Regions from separate parts of the Homo sapiens genome. Here region 2 is linked to region 1. The links come from fine-mapping of genetic effects on gene expression. A gene starts in region 1. The other region holds a variant in brackets. All regions are shown on one strand. Distances are between the middles of the regions.

Evidence for each region. PIP is the estimated chance that this variant, and not a neighbour inherited with it, causes the effect. A credible set is the group of variants that fine-mapping cannot tell apart.
Region 2: its variant is the best candidate, but not a certain one, in a credible set for the expression of SRA1 in whole blood (TOPMed, PIP 0.51).

Annotation. Positions count from the first base shown.
Region 1 is chr5:140,556,057-140,558,556 of GRCh38, forward strand. It overlaps SRA1 (steroid receptor RNA activator 1), which reads right to left and starts at 1,417. Exons shown (of 5, transcript NM_001035235.4): 1 at 1,372-1,417; 2 at 1,091-1,216. The coding sequence starts at 1,396. APBB3 (amyloid beta precursor protein binding family B member 3) reads right to left here. Exons shown (of 13, transcript NM_133173.3): 13 at 2,212-2,500. RefSeq lists a silencer at 1-126 and enhancers at 650-1,471, 1,337-1,696, 1,787-1,846.
Region 2 is chr5:140,160,815-140,163,841 of GRCh38, forward strand. The region is part of intron 1 of LOC101929719 (a long non-coding RNA gene); the gene reads left to right. Among named protein-coding and RNA genes, the nearest start is that of CYSTM1, 13 kb to the right of the region's middle. The variant A/T (reference allele first, on the strand shown) is at 1,404.

The DNA of each region.
Region 1 (2,500 bases):
ACACTTTTGGCTATCACAACTGGGTGGATGCTACTGACATCTTTTGGGTAGAAGTCAGAGTTGCTGATTAACATAAGACACAGGAAAGTCCCTCACAAAGAATTATCTGGCCACAACCTATCAATACTGCTGAGTTTAAGAAACCAAGCCTTGTATCATTCTTCTACAGCAAAAAGGGTGTGGAGAATGGAGGGCCACTGAAAGAACCAAACCTGAGCCCCTTTATGGGGGCCACGGCACAGCCCATTTAATGGCTTGGAAAATTCTCGGGGGGAAAGGTGGCTCTCCTCTACTTTAAACTTTTCAATGGCTTCTAACTTTATGTAGATTAAAATACAAATTCCTCATCCTGCTTTACAAAGCCCACTATGCTGTAGCCAGCCACTCTGTATTTCATCAGTCTCTGAATTGGCCAAACTTATTCCTTTTGCAGCTGTTTCTTTTGCTTGGAATGCTTTTGTACATGATCTTTGTGTGGCTTAAATGTCAGCCCCTCAGACACCTCGTTACCCAGTCATATTACATCACCGCTTATTTTCTGTAGCACCCTCACCACTATTTCATCTTTCAGCCCATCTCCAGTGCTGCAACGTGGACTTCCTGAAAGCAGAGATCTTTTTTTTTTTTTTCTCACTGCTGTCTAGTTCGCCCTCAAACAGTGCCTGACTTATAGAAGTGCTCAGTAAATAACAGTGATTAAATGAATGAAAAACTGTGAAGTCTGACGATTATCATATACCTAAGTGAAGACAGAATGGACAAATGAATATGCCACTATACGGTTCTGGCAAGAGGTATAGGTTAACAAAGAAAAATAACTTCAGGATTAAAACTATATTAAAAGCCACAGGTCTGGATAAGATCATCTAGGATGAAAAAATAGTCTTTTTAAATCAATACACCATTTATTAACCTGAGCAGCAGAGAAGGGGCTCGGAAAAGCACCTGCTCTGAGACCCTTACTGGAGCCCCAAAACTTCTCTCCTTAAGGAGCCCTCGGGGAGAGAAAAAAGCCTTCCAAACAGGCTTATGCCTTACACCCCCCCCCCCCCATTCTCCGTCTGTCTCCGAGCACAGGGGCCCCACGCACCTCTGGGGGATCCATCCTGGGGTGCGGCGACCCTCTTGGTAAGCAGCGAGCGCCTGGGTCCGCCGGCCTGGGTCTGCAGCCCGTATGAGAACTGCGGCGGGTCGTTCCAGCCGCGTTCCTTGTTGCCTGCGGAGGCGAGGGATGTGTGAAGCGAGCCCGGAACTCCACTGTTAGCTTATACTGGGGCTGGGGGAGACAGAGGGTCCATACTAAGCGCCGCAACCGCCCCCAGCCTAGGCCGGGGCGACAACCTAGTGCCCTAGCCCGCCGGCTGCGCTCACCCGGCTTCACGTACAGCTCCGCCATCTCCACTTCCGCTTGGCCAGCGGGGCAGCGCGTCATTTCCGGGGCGGCCCCTCACGCGGGCCAGTTGAGACACGTCCAGGGCCAGGCGGGTTGCCGGAATCCGTGGAGGATGGATGCTGGTTCACAACCGTCGGGAGCCGCTGTGGGGACCCTGCGGCAACTCCCTAAGACTCGAAGGCTCCATCTAATGAACCATCAGGGCCCTGGTCACAAGGCACCAAAGGAGGTTGCTGTCCAGGAGCCAGTGCTCTAGGAGGCCTCATCCTCTCAGGAGCAAATTCAAACAAAGAAGCTCCTGCCCCACATACACCCCGCTGTGATCTAGCCAGGTTGACTTCTACAGCCTCCTCTTGCATTGCCCTGCACAATCTCCACATTCACGTCCGGTAGCCTCACTAGTACTCATCTTCCTTCAGTTCTCAGTTCAGATGTCAGTTCTTCAGGAGGCCTTCTGGAATGTCTCAGGCCAGGTTAAGTGTCTCACTTGAGCTCCCACGACCCTACAACCCTCTGAGATTTCGTAGGTGTATTACATCACATCTTCTGCCTTATTTGACTCTTGTTCGTTTCCCTGTCGGACAGTCTTAGAAGGTGGGACCTTGACTATTTTATTACATTCCCAGTGCCCAGCTTAGTGCCTGGCACAGGGAACTCCTTAGAAAATATGTTTGTTGAATGAAGTCAGATCTCCATCACACCCATGCTGTCATGTGACTACAGAGAGCCACCAACATCAAGCACAGACACAAAGACACTCATCTCACACAGGGTGTTAGCCCCCAGCCCTGTCCCAGGCCCAATATACTCACATCCAGTGAGGTCACTGAGGGATTTTTATTTGCACTGATTTTGCTATAAAGTGTTACTGAGGTAGAGCCAACTGTCCAGGGTTGGACAGGGGCAAGGAACACAAGGACCCAAGGAAAGGGGAGCCAGGGTCCTACGTTGTGGTGCAGTGCCTCCCAGTCATCCGTATAAACAATAAATTGGGCAATAAATAGACGGTGGACAAGGATCGGAGGGACAGGCAGAGAAGGCTTCAAGGAGTGACAGGCTATAGGCCTTGAGGAATAAAACGGTACAGAGTTAGGCATGGACCCAGAG
Region 2 (3,027 bases), 390 kb before region 1:
ACTTCATTCCTCCTTGTCTCTCTTTCTATCCCCTGGCAACCATGAATGTGTTCTCCATCTCTGTCGTTTTGTCATTTTGAGATCGTTATATACAGGAAATCACATAGTTATCTAACATTTTTTCTTTTTTCTTTTTTTTTTTTTTTTTTTTTGAGACGGAGTCTTGCTCTGTCTCCAGGCTGGAGTGCAGTGGTGCAATCTTGGCTCACTGCAACCCCCGCCTCCCGGGTTCAAGCAGTTCTCCTGCCTCAGCCTCCCAAGTAGCTGGGATTACAGGTGCGCACCACCACGCCCAGCTATTTTTTGTATTTGTAGTAGAGATGGGGTTTCACTGTGTTGGCCAGGATGGTCTCAATCTCTTGACCTTGTGATCCGCCTGCCTTGGTCTGTATCTAACATTTTTATATTGAATTTTTCCACCAAGAATAACACCCTCAAGGTCCCTTGAAGTTGTTGCACACATTACCAATAGTTCATTCCTTTTTATATGGCTGTACCACAGTTTATACAGTTTATACATTTACCAGTTGAAACACATTTGAATTGTTTCCAGTTGTTGGACAATTATAAAGTCACTATAAACATTTGTGTACAGGTTTTTGTGTGAACAGAAGTATCATTTCACTGTGGGAAAATACCTACAAGTGGGATTGCTGGGTTGTATGGTAAGGGCATATTTATGAGAAATAGCCAAACTCTTGCAAACTGACTATACAAATTTTGCATTCCCACCAGCAGTGTGAAAGCTGCAGTTTCTTTGGATCCCTGCCAGCACTGGATATTACCGCTTCTTTTGTTTTTGTGTTTAGGATTTTAGCCCTGCCCCACTATAGGTGTGTAATGGTACCCCACATAATTTTTTTCTTTTTGGCAGCGTTTCACTCTGTCGCACAGGCTGGAGTGCAGTGGCGCAATCTTGGCTCACTGCAACCTCCACCTCCTGGGTTCAAGCGATTTTCCTGCCTCAGCCTCTTAAATAGCTGGGACTACAGGTGTGTGCCACCATGCCTGGCTAATTTTTGTATTTTTAGTAGACTGGGTTTTACCATGTTGGCCAGGCCGGTCTCACCCACATGACTTTTAAAACATAAATAAGACCAGGTCATAACCCTCTTTTTTTTTTTTTTTTTTTTTTTTTTGAGACAGGGTTTTGCTCTGTTGCCCAGGCTGGAGTGCAGTGGTGTGATCATAGCTCACTGCAGCCTCAACCTCCTGGGCTCAAGTAATCCTCCCACCTCAGCCTCTCAGCCTCACAAGTAGCTGGGACTACAGGTGCACACTGCCACACCCAGCTAATTTTGGGGTTTTGGGGTTGTATTTTTTTAGAGATGGGGTTTCACCATGCTGCCCAGGTGTGTCTCAATCTCCTGAGCTCAAGCAATTTGCCCACCTCAGCCTCCCAA[A/T]GTGCTGGGACTACAGGCATGAGCCACTGTGCCCGGCCTATAACCTTTCTTAAATACTTCGAGTGGCTTCCCATCACACTCAGAATAAAATTCAAACTCAAAGGGCCTGCCAGGCTGCCTCTCCTGATCTCTTATGCCTCTTCCCCTCACTCTGCTCCAGCCACAGTGACTTCCTTGTTTCTCTAATGCCCTAAGCTTGTTCCTCCCTCAAGTCTTTCACCTGCGGTTCCCTCCACCTGGAATGTTCTTGCCCTGGGTATACACATGGCTCAGTTCCTCATTTGGTTCTGTCTAATGTCAGCTCCTCAGAGGCCTTCCCTGGTGGTCAAAATGAGCCCCATCCCTGCGCTCACCCTCGGTTCCCTTATCCTGTTTTATTTTCTTCATAGCACTTATTTCTCCTTGATATAATATTATATCAATTGTTGACTTGCGTCCTGTCTGTCTCCCTATAAGGACAGGGCTTGGCTTTTTGATGGCTATCTCCAGTGCTTAACACAGTGCTTGGCATATAGAAGGAAATAATATTTGTGGAATGAATGTGTATGGGAAACCTCTTGTAACCCTCCTGTCATCCTTTTGGCCCACGTTTTACTCAGCCATCACTGTGGCAACCAGCTTGGAGCAGGTAAACGCACCGAGGCTCAGCTGCTCCACACGGCTCTGCTCTTGCCTTCTGCTGGGGCTTCTCCCTGGACTCCAGTACTGCAAACTGGATGTCTGAGGATGTTAACCCCTTGGGAGTAACCCTGGGCCCTTGGCGGCTGGGGTTGGTGGCTATGTGCTTTCTTCTCTGACACTCAGTGGACAACTAGGAGGTGCACTCTACACTGCTCCTCATCACATCCCAGCTGGGTCAAGCCCCAGCTGCCCACAGTGGTGACCAGCTCTATAACACACCATGGCACTGGCTTTCCCTTGTTCCTACTTCATGAGTCTCCCCAGTCCCCTATTCCTGCTCCCTGGGATCATGTCCTGAATTAACTTGCAAGCATGCTCTTTCTCTGCTTTCTCTACCTGTAAGAAGGTAGCAGGGATAGAGAAGAGCCCAGGTTACATTAGAACAATATATGAAACTTATAGACTAGTAGGAGAGACCAATACAACAAAATTTAAATAACTACAGGTAAAGAGATGGACTTTTCAACAGATGGTGTTGGAATAACTGAATATCCATATGGAATGCAATGCATTTCAATCCTTACTTCATACCATACTCAAAATAAATCAAAGAACTATTAAAAAAAAAACTATAAAACTTCTGGAAGAAAGAAATTCTGCCAGGCACGGTGGCTCATGCCTGTAATCCCAGCACTTTGGGAAGCCGAGGTGGGTGGATCACGAGGTCAGCAGTTCGAGAACAGCCTGACCAACATGGTGAAACCCCGTCTCTACTAAAAATACAAAAACAATTAGCTGGGCATGGTGGCAGGCGCCTGTAATCCCAGTGACTTGGGAGGCTAAGGCAGGAGAATTGCTTGAAACCGGAAGGCAGAGGTTGCAGTGAGCCGAGATTGTGCCACTGCACTCTAGCCTGGGCAATAAGAGCAAAACTCCATCTCAAAAAAAAAAAAAAGAAAGAAAGAAAGAAGAAATTCTTCATGATGGTGGGGTAGGCAGAGAT